Regions from separate parts of the Homo sapiens genome. Here region 2 is linked to region 1. The links come from fine-mapping of genetic effects on gene expression. A gene starts in region 1. The other region holds a variant in brackets. All regions are shown on one strand. Distances are between the middles of the regions.

Evidence for each region. PIP is the estimated chance that this variant, and not a neighbour inherited with it, causes the effect.
Region 2: its variant is the best candidate, but not a certain one, in a credible set for the expression of ZNF213-AS1 in whole blood (INTERVAL, PIP 0.77).

Annotation. Positions count from the first base shown.
Region 1 is chr16:3,131,678-3,139,885 of GRCh38, reverse strand. It overlaps ZNF213-AS1 (ZNF213 antisense RNA 1), which reads left to right and starts at 5,004. Exons shown (of 6, transcript NR_110900.1): 1 at 5,004-5,256; 2 at 6,944-7,036; 3 at 7,783-7,867. ZNF213 (zinc finger protein 213) reads right to left here and starts at 4,857. Exons shown (of 6, transcript NM_004220.3): 1 at 4,499-4,857; 2 at 2,207-2,720; 3 at 1,345-1,468; 4 at 1,068-1,141; 5 at 788-911. The coding sequence starts at 2,605. RefSeq lists enhancers at 922-1,422, 4,907-5,096, 5,107-5,276 and a silencer at 4,567-4,796.
Region 2 is chr16:3,091,818-3,100,173 of GRCh38, reverse strand. ZSCAN10 (zinc finger and SCAN domain containing 10) reads left to right here and starts at 880. Exons shown (of 6, transcript NM_032805.3): 1 at 880-984; 2 at 7,170-7,632; 3 at 7,858-8,125; 4 at 8,346-8,356. The coding sequence starts at 7,237. RefSeq lists enhancers at 78-127, 6,873-7,460 and silencers at 5,433-5,502, 6,994-7,187. The variant G/A (reference allele first, on the strand shown) is at 3,519.

The sequences.
Region 1 (8,208 bases):
GCCTGTAATCCCAGCTACTCAGGCTGAGGCAGGAGAATTGCTTGAACCCGGGAGGTGGAAGTTTCAGTGAGCTGAGATCACACCACTGCATTCCGGCCTGGCGACAGAGCAAGACTCCATCTCAAAAAAAAAAAAAAGAAAGAAAATTTTTCCCAACCGTCACAGTCGGAAACTGAGGAGCCAAACTGGTCTAGCTAGTGTGGCTCCCTTCACCACGCAGGCTCTAGTTCTCCAAACTCAACACAGATCTGGACAGAGGTCGCAGCCCATCCTCCTGGGAGTGTGACTGAACAAGATGATCCCTGATGGTGCTGAGAAGGGGCCTGGCATGGAGAGGAACCTGGTAAGTGCAGTTCTGACGAGCAGGGGCCCAGGCTGGTGAGCAGCTGGGGTTCCCCGTCAGCACCCCTGCTCCTAGCAGCCCAAGGTGGCCTCACAACTGTGCCTGATCCAAGTCCCAGCTGTGTCCCTTCAGCATCCACTGACCTGAGTCTCAGGTCCCTTATGCGTAAAATGGGGACAATACTTCCATGCACTAGGTTGTGAGACTCAAAGGAGAAGTTGCCCTTAGAGCAACTGCAGGGCTGGGCAGCGCCGGCGCCGTCCCATGCTGCATGTGGAAACGCACAAAAACTGATCATCAGCCAAGAAAGGAGTTACTCAGGCTCCTGGCAAGACCTAGGGAGAGCCTGCTTTGGAACCAGCTAAGGATGGGGTGGGAAACAAGACTGAAGTTCCAGCAGAATCGGGGGCGGCCAGCCTGGACCCAAAGGCCCTGGGTGCTTACCCAGGGTGGTGTTCCGGGAGTTCTCCCGCTTTATGTCCCAGAAGAGATCCCGCTGAGCAGGGTCCAGGGTGCCCCATTCTTCCCGGGAGAAATAGAATGGGATGTCTCCCAATGCCACAGGTCCCTGGAATGGGGTGAGAAGACCCGGCTCAGGCCTCCCAGCAGCACTGGCGGGGACAGGATGGGTCAGATGAAAGAGGCCTGATGGGACAGCAAGTCCCATTTTACAAACTCAACAGGGCCAAGTGCCTTAAAGAAGACAAAGGGACTGGTGACTCACATGGACCCCAGAGACAAAGCAGGTGTCCGTCGTCTCTCCGGGACGACCCTCTTTAAGAAGAGCAGGAGGCTGGGCTGAAGGAGAAGAATGGAGCCTTAGAAAGGCCAGCCCAGGCTTGACACCGACGCCTATGGCCTCCCCAGCCTGTGCGCATGCACACACGCCCTGGACTTCACAGAGGGAGCTGTCCTGCCTGTGACCCTTAGGGCAACGCCGGTGACAAAGCTAGGTCCCTGCCCAGCCACTCGACTGTCCACAAGAACGGAGGCTTACTCACCGCTATGGCTGTGCTGCTCCTGGGGAACAGACGGCCGCCTCCGTGCCCCCACCGTCGGGGGAGGCCCCGTGGCCTGGGATCCCCGGCCTGCAGCCTCGGGTTCCGCCTCCTCCGAGGGCACATCCTGTGCAGGAACCACAACATGCTCATCAGCCCGAGACCAGACCGGGGGAGACAGAGTTTACTCCCTGGGAAGGAGACACAGGACATGACCCTCAGGATGCTGGGGTGTGGGAAGGAGACCAATATGGTGCCCCAGGAAAAGTCCGGAGGAGAATGTGATACCAGGTAATGCTGTGTGCCCAAGGATGCTCCCCGATCATTCACGAGGCAAGAACCAGCCCTGAAAGGCCAGAATCACAGCCACTTAGCAAGGGGGTAGCTGGGGACCCTCCTGCCAAAGGCAGAACCCCATCCCCCAGCCACTCATTAGAACCTCCCCAGATGCATCCAATGTGAAGGACCCAACATCCCACAAGGTAGCAGAGGCCCCGGACAGCTCCACCTTCTCGCCCCACTCTGGAGCTGGCTCTATGCACACCCTTGTGTCCCCAGAGCCAGGCCTAGAGCAAAATGCAAATAAACATCAGCAGACCCTGCATGGAGCTAAAACCTCCTGTCTGGAACATTCGCACTTCAGCCCTATTGCTGCCTTCCAAAGCCACAAAAAATAAATCACATTTACTTTGGATCGCATCTTTCAGAAAGGCACCCATGGCACACTGTGCTTGTGTGCCTGCTCCTGGGGGCTCTGTGTCTCCCCTACCCTGTGAGCCTCTGGGAGACTTATCTCTGCAGGTTACCCACTTCTCTCGAGCTCAGATACCATCCAGGTGCCCCTGGATGTGGAAGGGCCCCTCACCTGTCGCCAGGCTTTCACTGGCTGCTTCTGTAGGTCCTCCACCAAGGCGACAGCCTCCTCACCGCTTCCCGGGTGCTGCTCACGCACCCAGCCCTGGATCTCCCCTGGCAGCACTGTCAGGAACTGCTCCAGCACCAGCAGCTCCAGGATCTGCTCCTTGGTACGCAGCTCGGGCCGCAGCCAGCGGCAGCAGAGCTCCCAGAGCTGGCTGAAGGCCTCATGAGGCCCATGCACATCCCCGTAGCAGAATTGCCGGAAGCGCTGGCGGCAGGCTTCGGAATCCCTGCCATCCTCATGCTGGGCAGATTCCTGTTCCCAGGAGGAATCTTCCACTTTCACAATCAGAAGCCCTTCTCCCTCCCCAGGGGCCTGGTCCTGGGCCTCCAAGGGGGCTGCCATTCCCCTGGCCTGAGGCTCAGGGTTGGTCGGCTTCAACCTGGGCCCCAGAACCTGTACTTTCAGTCTCCCAGAGGGATCCCCTGTGGTAGCTGGGCTGGCATCTGGATGTGTACTCCTGGGGAAAGAGCAAAATGGCAGGACTGAGGAGGAAGGATGTGGAATACACGAGCAAACCCCAGGCTGAAGAGCCATCCAGTCCCCATCCTTTCATGGCCCTGAAGCCTTTTCTAGGCTTTACTGTAATGCCTTGCTCATGTGACTGTCTCTCCTATTAACACAGGCCCACAAGCTCTCATCCCAAAGCCAGAAATCCAAAACCCGGGTGTTTCATAACTCTTTGACAGCAAAACCCAATGTCATTCATTTGGCAGCACCACCTGACCTGATATAAGCATATTTATAATCTCAATTTATTCCACTAAATGTAAATGTTCAAAATTATGGTGGAAATATTAATAACATATATCTTCAGTTTATAAAATTTCATTGAGCTATACCCACTCGTGTGTTTTTCTGTATTGCACATTATACATCAATTAAATATCTTTTTTTTTTTTTTTTACTGAGAGAGAGTCTCACTCTGTCGCCCAGGCTGGAGTGCAGTGGCGCAATCTCAGTTCACTGCAACCTCTGCCTGCCAGGTTCAAGCGATTCTCCTGCTTCAGCCTCCCAAGTAGCTGGGACTACAGGCACCAGCTACCACGTCCAGCTAATTTTTTGTATTTTTAGTAGAGACGAGGTTTCACCATGTTGGCCAGGATGGTCTCAAACTCCTGACCTTGTGATCCACCCGCCTCGGCCTCCTAAAGTGCTGGGATTACAGGCGTGAGCCACTGCGCCCGGCCTAATTAAAAAATTTTAACTGATATGTTTCATTATTTAGTGTTGCCCCAGATCCCTCTGGAGATGTGCTTGATATATCGTCTGTGCACTATATTATCTTTCTCAAATTTGAAAACCTCTGAATTCCAAAACACATCTGGCCCTGAGGTGTCACAGAAGGGCTTACAGACACCATCCAAAGCCATTTATCCACAGGTACATATAAATGTATGACACATTTATACCTTACATTGTTACTCTCTACTGAAAAGTGTATTATGCAATTTTCAGTAATCGATTTTTTGTTTCAACAATAAAAATACAAACTGGCCGGGCTTGGTGGCTTATGCCTGTAATCCCAGCATTTTGGGAGACAGACACAGGATGATTGCTTGAGGCCAGGGGTTCAAGACCCCTTTGGGAAGACAATGTGAGACGCCATCTGTACCAAAAAACAAAAAAAGCCAGGTGGGGCTCCTGTAGTCCCAGCTACTGGGGAGGCTGAGGAGGAAAGATTGCTTGAGTCCAGGAGTTTGAGGTTGCAATGAGCTATGATCGCACCACTGTACTCCAGCCTGGGCAACAGAGTGAGACCATCTCAAAAAAAAAAAAAAAAGAAAGAAAAGAAAAGTAAAAAGAAAATGAAAAAAATACAAACCATCTTAATAAAAAAGGGAAGATTCAAACAATATAGAAATCTGTAAAACTCTCCCTTCCTCAATACCATTGTACCCCCCGACTTAACAGTCTGACAAATGACGTCCCAGACCTTTTCCTGTGCTTTTACTAAAAAAGTCATCCATAGCGGGGAGAAAAGGTGCTTGATGTGTTTCTACATAAATGAGACCTTACTGCACAGACATTAGCGGCACTATGAGCTTCCGCGGTATGGATATGCTCTAGTTTCTTAATCAATACTCGAGTGATGCATTCGGGTTGTTTCCAATTCTTTAGTCCATCCTAAGCACTTTATTTATTCTGCTCCTCACAAGACCCCTGAAAGGTGCGCGCACCATTCTCATCCTCTGGTGACTTCGAAGAAGACTTTCCTCGAAGAGGGCCAGGACTCACCAGGGTCGCTCAGCAGGACACGGCAGGCGGGAAGGCGAGCCAGCCGGAGCCCCGCGCTGTCCACCGCAGCCTCGCCCGCGGGGCGAGCGGCGATCGTACAGGGGCGTCTGCCGGGGGACCAAGCTGGCAGAGCGGCGCGGGGGACCAGCACTTCCTAGCAGTGCGCGCGCCCTCCGGCCTCTGCCTCGGGGCGCTGATCCCGGCCACTCGGAGCCCGGTGCTTGATGTTGGAGCCAGGCGGCCAGAGGCCCCGTCCCCGCCCCGGCCCCCGCCCCCGCCCCCGCCCCCGAAACACACAACGCCCACTACGGCCCAGGAGATCCCACTTCCGCCGCGAGCTCCCGGCGCCGGAAGTCCTCGCGGGGCTCGCTGGGAAACTACGCTACGCAAGCATTCCCCAGCTCCCAGAAAGCCGTTCGTCCACTGAGCCCGCCTTCTCCATGACCGATGGCCAATGAACAGGAAGAATTCTCAGGCTGCCTATTAGAAGACAGAAACTCCATACGCGTCATACACCTGCACCCGGGAGGAAAGGCGAGGCTCTGCATCTAGATTTACCTCGTTCTCTTTTGTCTCCGCTTTTTTTTCACATTTCCTTGCGACCCTGGCCCTTGAGCGACAAAAAGGGGAAGCCAAGGCTGGCCCGAGGAACGGAGAGGGCACATGGCCTAGCCACAAGTGGAGCTTCTGCTCCGCCCGAAGGGATGCGCTGGAGCGGCCTCTTCCTTCTGCCACGGTCTTTCTTTGCCAACTAGTAGGTGAGGGCCGAAAGGCCGCGGGCCGTGGAGCTCGGGCCGGGGAGACTCTTTTCTAGCCTCTTGGGTCCCGCTCCTCCCAATTCCCTGGAGAGGCGTCGAGCTTGCTGGGAAGTGCCCTCGGGTAAGGGGCGCGGAGCCTCCTGCGGCGATCCTCTGTCTTCGGGTCGCCTTAGCAGGACGCGGCAAGCGGGACACTGACCTGGCCGGAGTCCCGCGTTCTCTCACCAGCTGCTTTGTCCACGAGTTGCTGCTGGGCGTCAGGGGTCCCACGGCCCGGAGGGATCTAGAGCAGGGGGGCTCGGGGTCCTTTCCATACCCTCGGATCCTCTCCCACTCTCTCCACGCCTCGACCCGGAGATGATTTCAGGCTCCAGATCTCTTTCATAAATGGAAAGAGTTTTTTTGGTTTGTTTTGTCTTAATTATGTAGGTGTTGCATGCTTGGAAGAGAAAATTTAGAAAATTAATTGGAAAACCATAAAGATAGCTTTCTCGTGATAGCCACAAGGCTTGCTCCCTCATTCTGCTCATATGTCACCCCCTCAAGGAGGCCTTCCCCAGCTCTGTAAACAACCTGTGCTCGGCGTTAACTTTTCTCCCTAATGTTTATCACTACCTGACATATACGTGTTTCCCACGACTCAACGATAAGTGTTCATGAGGGCAGACACTTTTTAATGCCCTATGACAAGCACCTAGAATTGTGCCTGGCACATGGTAGATGCTTAGTAAATATTTGTTTAATGAATGAAGGTAAAAAACATTTCTAATACGACCATCCAGGAATAAGTACTATTCATGTTTTAGTGTGTTCTTACAGTTTTACTGTTCAGACAGTTATATGCCTGTGAATATATATTATATATGTGTGTATATATATATATATATATATATATATATTTTTTTTTTTTTTTTGAGACAGAGTCTCGCTCTGTCACCCAGGCTGGACTGCAGTGGCGCGATCTTGGCTCACTGCAACCTCCGCCTCCTGGATTCAAGCGATTCTTCTGCCTCAGCCTCCCGAGTAGCTAGGATTACAGGCATGTGTCACCACGCCCGGCTAATTTTGTATTTTTAGTAGAGACGGGGTTTCTCCGTGTTGGTCAGGCTGGTCTCGAACTCCTGACCTCAGGTGATCTGCCCGCCTCGGCCTCCCAAAGTGCTGAGATTACAGACGTGAGCCACCGTGCCTGGCGGAATTTTCATATTTTAAGTCCCCCACCCTTGGACATTTAGATTTTTTCCATCTTTCTGTATTTGCAGATATGCTTCTACGTACACCTTTATTCATTTGCTTGAACATTTCCCTGAGAAAAACTAGAAATGGAATTGCCAGATTACTTTGTGTACATGTTTCCAAACTGTCCTCCAGAAAGAATGTAATGCTTTGAACTTCCACTTGAGAATCAAATGTTTACCTTCCTCTGTTCCTCCAGATTTGGACATTTACAGTGTTCAGCCGTTGTTGTGGCATTCCAATTCAATTGGGAAACAGCTTGATGTAGCGTCCCCATAAGGTCCACAGTAATTAAATTTTTTTTTTTTTTTTTTGGTGCGGTAGTGCAATTTCATGGCTCACTGCAACCTCCACCTCCCAGGTTCAAGCGATCCTCCCATCTCAGCCTCCCTAGTAGCTGGGATTACAGGTGCACGCCACCACACCAGGCTAATTTTTGTATTTTTAGTAGAGATGGGGTTTCACCAGGTTAGCCAGGCTGGTCTTGAACTCCAGACCTCAAGGGATCCGCCTGCCTCAGCTTTCCAAAGTGCTGGGATTACAGGTGAGAACCACTGCACCCATCCTATTAAACTTTTAAATCATGATAGTTACCATGTATAGAGTGTTTATATGCCAGGCATTGAGCTAAGTCTTTTACGTCTTGCGCTCATTCTGTGCAACAGCCCAATGGGAGAAATTCCATGAATATAGTTACCATTTCCTTGATTTCTAGAGAAGCTGGATATGTTTTCTTTTTTTCCAGTATTATTTCTATTTATCCTTTTGTGAATTGTCTGTTGTTATTTTCATTGGAATATTCTCTTTTTTTGACAGAGTCTCACTCTGTTGCCCAGGCTGGAGTGCAATGGCACGATCTCGGCTCATTGCAAACCTCTGCCTCCTGGGTTCAAGCAATTCTCCTGCCTCAGCCTCCCAAGTAGCTGGGATTACAGGCACCCGCCACCACGCCCAGCTAATTTTTTGTATTTTTAGTAGAGACGGGGTTTTGCCATGTTGGCCAGGCTGGTCTCGAACTCCTGACCTCAGGTGATCCACCCATTTCGGCCTCCCAAAGTACTGGGATTACAGGCGTGAGCACCTGTGCCCGGCCACACCATTATTTTGAAGAGAAAATTTGATAAAAATAATTGGTCAGTTGTAAAGATGGTTAACTACCCAACTGGTAAGAGAGATTTCTAAGAGTTACAGAATAGCAACTGCAGGAAGGAACTTGTGCCCTTAGGACTGAGGAAGTAAAAAGGAGGGAAACTTGGAAACACGAAAGAGCCCTTCCCCTTTCAATTCAAGGTGGAGACTGGACCTCAGAAGAGGGAGTGGGTGCCCCGAGAACTCACAGCTAGCGGACAGTGGAAAGGGCAGGAGCCGGACCAAGGTGAGGACAGTGGAACTGAAGGCCGCTGGTTACCTCTCCTGCCCTCCGCTGGCCACAGTGGAGAAGACAGCCCCTCCCTCCTGCTCTGACCTGACAGTGTTCATCCATCGCCCTGTATTAGCGAAGAACAACATCAAGCTGGCTAGCAAGGAACTGTATACAGGGTCCAGCTGGGTATCACACTGGATCTCACCCAAAGCTTAGATGTGATCCAGCTCAGTATCACAAAGCAGAACGAAAAGGATGTGTTTGGGCTGAGAGGCCATACATTGGTAAGTGGCACATGAACTGTATTTTCTATTGAGCATTGCTGGTATATGGCAAATTTGCATAAAATTATA
Region 2 (8,356 bases), 40 kb after region 1:
CAGAGCAGACCAAGGAGAAAGACCGTCGTACGAAGGGAGCACTAGACAACTGAAGTAGGAACAGGATGAGCTCAGGTGTTAAGTGCAGGAAAACAAAGACCCGTCAGATGAGCCAGTCAGGAGGGTCCTGGCCCCAACGGACCGAGGGGTCTAGGCCGGGGGAACGGCCAACACCTGAGAGGTGGTCCTGGCTCCCCGGGGGCTCAGAACGCTCAGGAAGGCACCAGCTGCAGCCAAGGGCACAACCCAAGAAGGCACCTTAAGCACAGGGATGGAATTAGTTTGGGGCCAAACGCTGTTGGTTAGGTCACTTCCCTCCCGGGGAGCCCTTGCTTCGTCATCGGTAAAGTTGGGACAAAAGCCACCTGGCAGGACTTGGGAGGACTTTAGGTGACCGTGTAGATGGAGCAAACTCTGCCCCATCACATCCTCCTCTTCCATTTTTTCCTAGCACCGTCGCTGCTCCTTTGCCCTAGAATGTAAGCCCCTGAGAGCAGGGCCTCATTCCTTCAGTTTCTCTCTGTGTCCTTAGCCCCTGCTTTGTAACAGTGCCTGGCACACAGGAGGCCATTGCAAAGAGTAGTCACGTGAATGAAAAGCCTAGCAAAGAAGCCAGCACACTGTGGGCATTTAAAAATGGCAGCTCTTAGCCCAAAGGAAAGACGGGCAGACCTGCAAGGGGCACCAGGCCAGTCTTGATTTGGGAGGTGGTTACACTCTCACACAGGCTGGGATTGAAATCTGGATTTCTCACTTTGTCTTCATGTCACTGGCCCCGCCCTCTTCCCATCCCGCTCCCAAACTGGGAGCTTAAGGGTTAACTCTAGGAAGCCCCTCATCACCTGGATGGGATGGGACTGGGGCAAGGAACTTCCTGTTCCATTTTCCCAGAGCCCTTCCCCAGGCTGGCGGAGGCTGGCTTTGGCCCTGGAGTCCTCAGAAAACCCCCCAGCATCTCTGCCTGTGTAGTGGGGACTCCGAGTGGTGAGTTGGAGGGAGGTCGGGGTGCAGGCTGCCAGGACGGGTGCTAGGAGCTCGCAGCAGCTTGGAGAGAGCAGGGGAGGCTCCAGGCCTTGGTGCTGGGGTGGGGGCTGGAAGAGTCTTGGGAGGATGTAGAGGGTCTGCTGGGGAGCCTCGTGCCAGCCAGCTTGGTGGACCTGTCGCGATGGGGGCGTTGGGGACGAGGGAGATCGCAGAACTTCCTGTGACATTGAAGAAGGCTGGCTTCACGTGCTCCCAGGTGGACTGATGGGCCTTGTCCACTCAGCCCAGCACGCGGAGGGAGGCCCCTCCAACAAACAACAAATCAGGCAGCTGCCAACTGTGTCCAGGGAGAAAGGGAGTGTTCCCGGCTGAGGACCCCACCTTTGCCGCCTTCCCCAACTCTGGGCTCTCAGGTGACCTGGGTGGGTCTCGTGGCAGCACCTCCACCCCGGGCTCCAAATTAAGCTGCTCAAATGTTGGATGGTGGCTGTAGAGCCTCTGCCTGCCTCCCTACCCAGCCCACCCCCAACAGAGGTGCATATTAACAGAGCTTTTGTCCTGGAGATCTGGGGGGAGGGAGAGATTCTCTGAAGCCAACTTGTCTCGAATTCCACCTCTTTGAAACCTTTTGGAGAGATCTCACCTGGAGATTCCGGCCTCCCTGTGTGGCTTGCCCTGAGAGCTGAAATTTGGAATCTTCATTTTTTTTCTGTTTCATGCTGTGATATTTCGGCTAAGGCTAGGAAAATGGCACAGAGCAGGATGGAGATCAGTTCCTTTTCTGTTTCAGAGCTTTGGCACTGTGTTCTAGACCTACACTCTCAGCCTAAAGCAAACCTTGGCTCCACCTGGTGTGACCCTGAGCATGTCACCAAGTGCAAAGCTTGGTCTTTGCACTTGGCAAAGGGAGAAGTGATTGTTTCGTGCGTGGGCTGGACTGGGATGAAATGAGCTTAATCGCCAGACACTCAGTACCTGCCCGCTGCTCCTGCACGGCAATGGATGAGCAGTGATTAGTTTTCTTGTTATTTTGTGCATGCTACTAAAAACCAGTGAAACGTAATCCCATTTTCTTCCCCCTCCCCCACTCTTTTTTTTTCTTTTCTTTTCTTTTCTTTCTTTCTTTCTTTTTTTTTTTTTTTTTTTTGAGACAGGGTCTTCGCCTTTTATCCAGGCTGGTGTGCAGTGGCGCGAACATGGCTCACTGCAGCTTTGACCCCCCAGGTTCAAGCAATCCTTCTGCCTTGGCCACCCAAAATGCTGGGATTATAAGCATGAGCCACCGCATCCGGCCTCACAACACCATTTTTCTGATCATTTATCACAGACTTTTTCTGTCCTAGACGTTGTTACATGCTTTCCTTCGAGATGGCCAGAATCACTGCCATTCCCTAATTTCTGCTAACAGACACTGAAGCAACTTCAAGTGCTGGATGAACACTCATTGAACTAGACACAGCTCCTACTCCCAGGCCAGGCAGAGAAATACGCTCATCTGTGATTGAGGCACTCCATCGCCCTAGTGGGGAGAGATGGGGTGGGAGGATGGGGGCTGCCTGGAGTGGATGCCAGAGGGCAGGAAAGCGTAGTTCCGGCTCGGGGGTGGTTACACTCTCACACATGCAGGGGTTGAAATCTGGATTTCTCACTTTGTCTTCGCTTATCTGGCCCCACCCTGTCCCCATCCACCTCCCAAACTGGGAGCTTGAGGGTTAACGCTAGGAAGCCCCTCAACACCTGGATGGGATGGGACTGGGGCAGGGAACTTCCCGTTCCATTTTGTCAGAGTCCTTCCCCAGGTGGCTGAGGTTGGGAGATGCAGGGGAGCCGGGGTAGGGGTGAGGGGCTTGGAAGATACTGTGTGTTGCAGGGAGGTTGGGAGAGATGGGTCATGTTCTAGAATCACCTCCCCTCCTTCTCAGCGGCTAAGCTTAAAATCCCCCATTCTGTACCACAACACCACCCCACCTGAGGAGGTTCAGGGAACCCTCAGGCTCATATTAAGGGGGTACAGCAAACTGTCCAAGGCTCTCAACTAGGCCATCGTTACCAGGGAGAGGCTGCCCAAGGCTGAGTTACTTTTTTTTTTTTTTGAGACAGATTCTCATTCTGTTGCCCAAGCTGGAGTGTAGTGATGCAATCTCAGCTCACTGCAACCTCTGCCTCCTGGGTTCAAGAGATTCTCCTGCCTCAGTCTCCCGAACAGCTGGGACCACAGATGCATGCCACCATGCCCGGATAATTTTTTTTTTTTTTTTTTTGAGGCAGAGTCTAATTCTGTCGCCCAGGCTGGAGTGCAGTGGCACGATCTCGTCTCACTGCAACCTCCGCCTCCCAGGTTCAAGCAATTCTCCTCTCTCAGCCTCCTGAGTAGCTGGGACTACAGGCGCATGCCATCACGTCCGGCTAATTTTTGTAATTTTAGTAGAGACAAGGGTTTCACCATATTGATCAGGCTGGTCTCGAACTCCTGACCTCAGGTGATCCATCCACCTCGGCCACCCACACTGCTGGGATTACAGGCCTGAGCCACT[G/A]CACTCGGCCACTGGGTTACCTTTTTGCTGAGCCTTAGTGTCCTCGGCTGTAGAATGGGTCAGTGATGGGCCCAACAGAACTGTGAGTCACTGTTTGCTGCGGTGCTTGGTGTTGTAATCAGCAGCAATGAGAACAGTAATAGCTCGTGCTCATGGATGCCTACTGTGTGCCAGCCACTGCATGCTGGACAGTGCCCTGTGCCATTCAGGTGAGTGGAGTGGTGCTTCAGGCTTTCTTCACATCCCCCTACCTGGGGTGCCAACTGGGAGTGGAGGGTGGGAGGCTCTAGGAGAGGTTCACTTGTAGCCCTGAGGCTAGAGAACAGGAAGGGCAGAAAGCAGAGGGCAGGAGCCTGGATTTCCATGTCTATAAAATGACCCCTGCCTGAAATAAAATGTAAAAGAGACTCAAACAAAAATATGAGCCTGCTCTGCTCTGCTCAGAAAAGCTTAAATCATCCAGCCTCAATTAGTTGAGCAGGGCTGAACTGAGTCCCCTGTGGGTGGGGCCGAAATTTCGGAGGTTCCCCATGGGTAGTACTGGGCTACCAGACCAGGAAGGGGAAGCCCCACAGCCCTAGATTGGGAGGAGGTTGGGGGAGGATGTCAGTGCCTCCTGGTGGCTATAGATGACTTATTTTATATTTTTTATTTTTTGAGACGGGCTGGCACTGTCGCCTAGGCTGGAGTGCAATGTTGCAGTCACAGCTCACTGCACTGCAGCCTCAACCTCCTGGGATCAAGCAATCTTCCCACCTCAGCCTCCCAGGTAGCTAGGACCACAGGTATACACAACCATGACTGGCTAAATTTTTTTTTTTTTTTTTTGAGATGGAGTCTGGCTCTGTCGCCCAGGCTGGAGTGCAGTGGCGCGATCTTGGCTCATTGCAAGCTCTACCTCCCTGTTTCACGCCATTCTCCTGCCTCAGCCTCCTGAGTAGCTGGGACCACAGGCACCCGCCACTGCGCCCGACTGATTTTTTTTATTTTTATTAGAGACGGGGTTTCACCGTGTTAACCAGGATGGTCTCGATCTCCTGACCTGGTGATCCACCCTCGGCCTCCCAAAGTGCTGGGATTACAGGCGTCAGCCACTCAGTGCCCCCAGCAACTGGCTAAATTTTTAATTTTTTTTTTTTTTGAGACGGAGTCTCGCTGTCGCCCAGGCTGGAGTGCAGTGGCATGATCTCGGCTCACTGCAAGCTCCGCCTCCGGGGTTCACGCCACTCTCCTGCCTCAGCCTCCCGAGTAGCTGGGACTACAGGTGCCCGCCACCACCCGTGGCTAATTTTTTGTATTTTTAGTAGAGACGGGGTTTCACCATGTTAGACAGGATGGTCTCGATCTCCTGACCTTGTGATCTGCCTGCGTCAGCCTCCCAAAGTGCTGGGATTACAGGTGTGAGCCACCACACCCTGCCCTACATTTTTAATTTTTTTAGAGACGGGGGTCGTGCCATGTTGCCCAGGGCTGGTCTTGAACTCCTGAGGCTCAAGTGATCCTCCTGCCTCAGCCTCCCAAAGTGCTGGGATAACAGGCGTGAGCCAGCCCCGCTAACCTTTCATTTTGAAAATTCGAAAACATCCAGAGAACTTGAAAGAGCAGTGAAATGAACATTCATATATGTATCTCATATATCAGGCCCCTTCTCCAAACTCTTCAGCGTCTTCTAAGAACTCAGCCATTTCCTATATATTACAAGACTAGACTTTCATCTCAGAAATGGGTAGTCATACTGTTATCATCTAGTATCCCCACCATACTCACCATTTTCCGACTGGCCCCAGGATGTCTTTTAAAGCCTTTAAGAAAAATGAATGAGGATCCAATCTAGGTTCACCCACTTAGTTGTGAGGACTCTTTGGGCTCCTGTCCACCAGCGCCTCCTACAGGCACTTACTTTTTATGACACTGAGTAACTCAGGCCAATTTCTTTGAGAGATGGTCTGACTTGTTCCATATTCCCTGCAAGGCCCTAAACATTGGAAGTTGGATCTAAAGGCCACCATTAGGTCGGGCGGGGTGGTTCATGCCTGTAATCCCAGTACTTTGGGAGACCGAAGCGGGCGGATCACCTGAGGTTAAGAGTTTGAGAGCAGCCTGGCCAACATGGTGAAACCCCATCTCTACTAAAAATACAAAATTAGCGGCATGCGGTGGCGCGTGCTTGTAATCCCAGCTACTCACGAAGCTGACGGACGAGAATCACCGGAACCCGCGAGGCGGAGGTTGCGGTGAGCCGAGATCTTGCCATTGCACTCCATCCTGGGCAACAAGAGTGAAACTCCATCTCAAATAAATAAATAAATAAAGGCTGGTTGGATTGAGATTAGGTATTTTTGGGCTAGGCACAGTGGCTCACGCCTGTAATTCCAGCACTTTGAGAGGCTGAGGCAGGTGGATCACTTGAGCCCAGGAGTTTGAGACCAGCCTGGGCAACATAATGAGAACTCGTGTCTACAAAAAATAAATAAAATTAACCCAGCATGGTGATATGCACCTGTAGTCCCAGCTACTCGGGAGGCTGACGCGGGAGGATCACTTGAGCCCAGCAGATCAAGGCTGCAGTGAGCCGTGATTGCGCCACTGCACTGCAGCCTGCGTGACAGAGTGAGACCCTGTCTCAAAAAAATAAATAAATTACTTAATTAAATTAAAAATTTAAAAAACAGGCTTGGTGCAGTGGTTCACGCCTTAATCTCAGCAATTTGGGAGACTGAGGTGGGCTGATCACTTGAGGTCAGGAGTTCAAGACCAGCCCAGCCAACATGGTGAAACTCTTGTGTCTACTAAAAATGCAAAAATTAGCTGGGCGTGCTGCCACAGGCCTGTAATCCCAGCTACTGTAAACCCAGGCTGAGGAATGAGAATCGCTTGAACCTGGGAGGTGGAGGCTGCAGAGAGCTGAGATCATGCCACTGCACTCCAGTCTGGGTGATATAGCAAGACTCCATCTCAAAAAAAAAAAGAAAAAAAAAAGCTTTAAAAAACAAACTTTTTTGGCCAGGATCCATCTTGATGGTGCCATGTGCTCCCAGTGGCTACATCAGGAAGAAGGGAAGGGCAGGGTGTTTCTCTTTCAGGGATGGTCACTTTAATCACTTGGGAAAAGTGATGCAAATTTCTTTTTTTTTTTTTTTTGATCTGAGTCTCGCTCTGTCACCCAGGCTGGAGTGCAGTGGCGCGATCTCGGCTCACTGTAAGCTCCGCCTCCCAGGTTCACACCATTCTCATGCCTCAGCCTCCCCAGCAGCTGGGACTAAATTAGCCTGGCTAATTGTTTTGTATTTTTAGTAGAGACGGGATTTCACCGCGTTAGCCAGGATGGTCTCGATATCCTGACCTCGTGATCCACCCGCCTCGGCCTCCCAAAGTGCTCGGATTACAGGTGTGAGCCACTGTGCCCGGCCAAGTGATGTAAATCTCTAAATGCTTTAAGGAGGGATGATAATACAGAACTGTCAGTTTTCTCTGGCCTTTGCTTTGTTGGTAACCCTGAGACCGGGGGCTGTCCTGCCCTCGTGAGCCATTACCCAGTGAGAAAAGCGATTCCTCTGGGTCTGCGTATTGGGTGTCTTTTAACATGGATGACCCAGGTATGGGGCCAGCTTCCTCGCAGCAGATCCTAACCCAGGGTGTTCACCTTCGCAGGTGTGGGAGGAGAGGAGAGAGACCCAAGAGCGGGGCTGGCGTTAGGGAGGCATCCCCGCAGTGAAGGATGCTTGGAGAATCAGTCCCAGCTGCCGTGGAGCAGGAGCAGCTGGGGGAAGTCAAGCTGGAGGAGGAGGAGGCTGTCAGCCCAGAGGACCCCAGGCGACCAGAGTCCAGGCTGAGGCCCGAGGTGGCTCACCAGCTGTTCAGATGCTTCCAGTATCAGGAGGACATGGGGCCACGGGCGTCCCTGAGCCGGCTCCGGGAGCTCTGCGGCCACTGGCTGCGGCCGGCTCTGCACACCAAGAAACAGATCCTGGAGCTGCTGGTGCTGGAGCAGTTCCTGAGTGTGCTGCCTCCGCACCTCCTGGGCCGCCTGCAGGGGCAGCCGCTCAGGGATGGGGAGGAGGTGGTGCTGCTGCTCGAGGGCATCCACCGGGAGCCCAGCCACGCGGGGCCGCTGGTGAGAGGGTGGGGCAGCGGGCTGAGCAGCATGCGGATGATGGGGACTTGATCCCCCCAGTGAGGAATCTCTGGAAACTTCACTTTCCCCCACCTGACCATTCCTTCTTCACCTCCTAACTCCTCCCCTGGCTGACTCTAACCTCGTTTCTGTCCCATGTCCCCTCGGAGTCAGGACACAGGTTGCCACCCCGGGAGTCACTTAACTTGAATGTGTTTTGAACAGGATTTTAGTTGTAATGCTGGCAAGAGTTGTCCCCGTGCAGACGTCACCTTGGAGGAAAAGGGGTGTGCTTCCCAGGTCCCCAGCCACAGCCCCAAGAAGGAATTGCCTGCGGAAGAGCCTTCAGTGCTGGGCCCATCGGATGAGCCTCCCCGACCCCAGCCAAGGGCTGCCCAGCCTGCTGAGCCGGGACAGTGGAGGCTTCCCCCAAGTTCAAAGCAGCCGCTGAGCCCGGGGCCCCAGAAGACATTCCAGGCCCTGCAAGAAAGCAGTGAGGAGCTTGTGCCCTAGGAGGCCAAGGACTGGGTGTCGCGGAGGGGCCTGGATGTCTGGGGTGGGGTGAGAAGTGGGGCCTCCCCAGGTGACCAGGACAGGAGAGCGCCAAGGTGTCTTCACAGGGCCCGGATGATGCGGTGTGTGTCCTTGCAGCCATATGGCAGGCAGGGCTGCCTTCTAACAGCACTTCCTCCCCTCTTCCCCAATGCCGTCAGGTCCCCAGGGC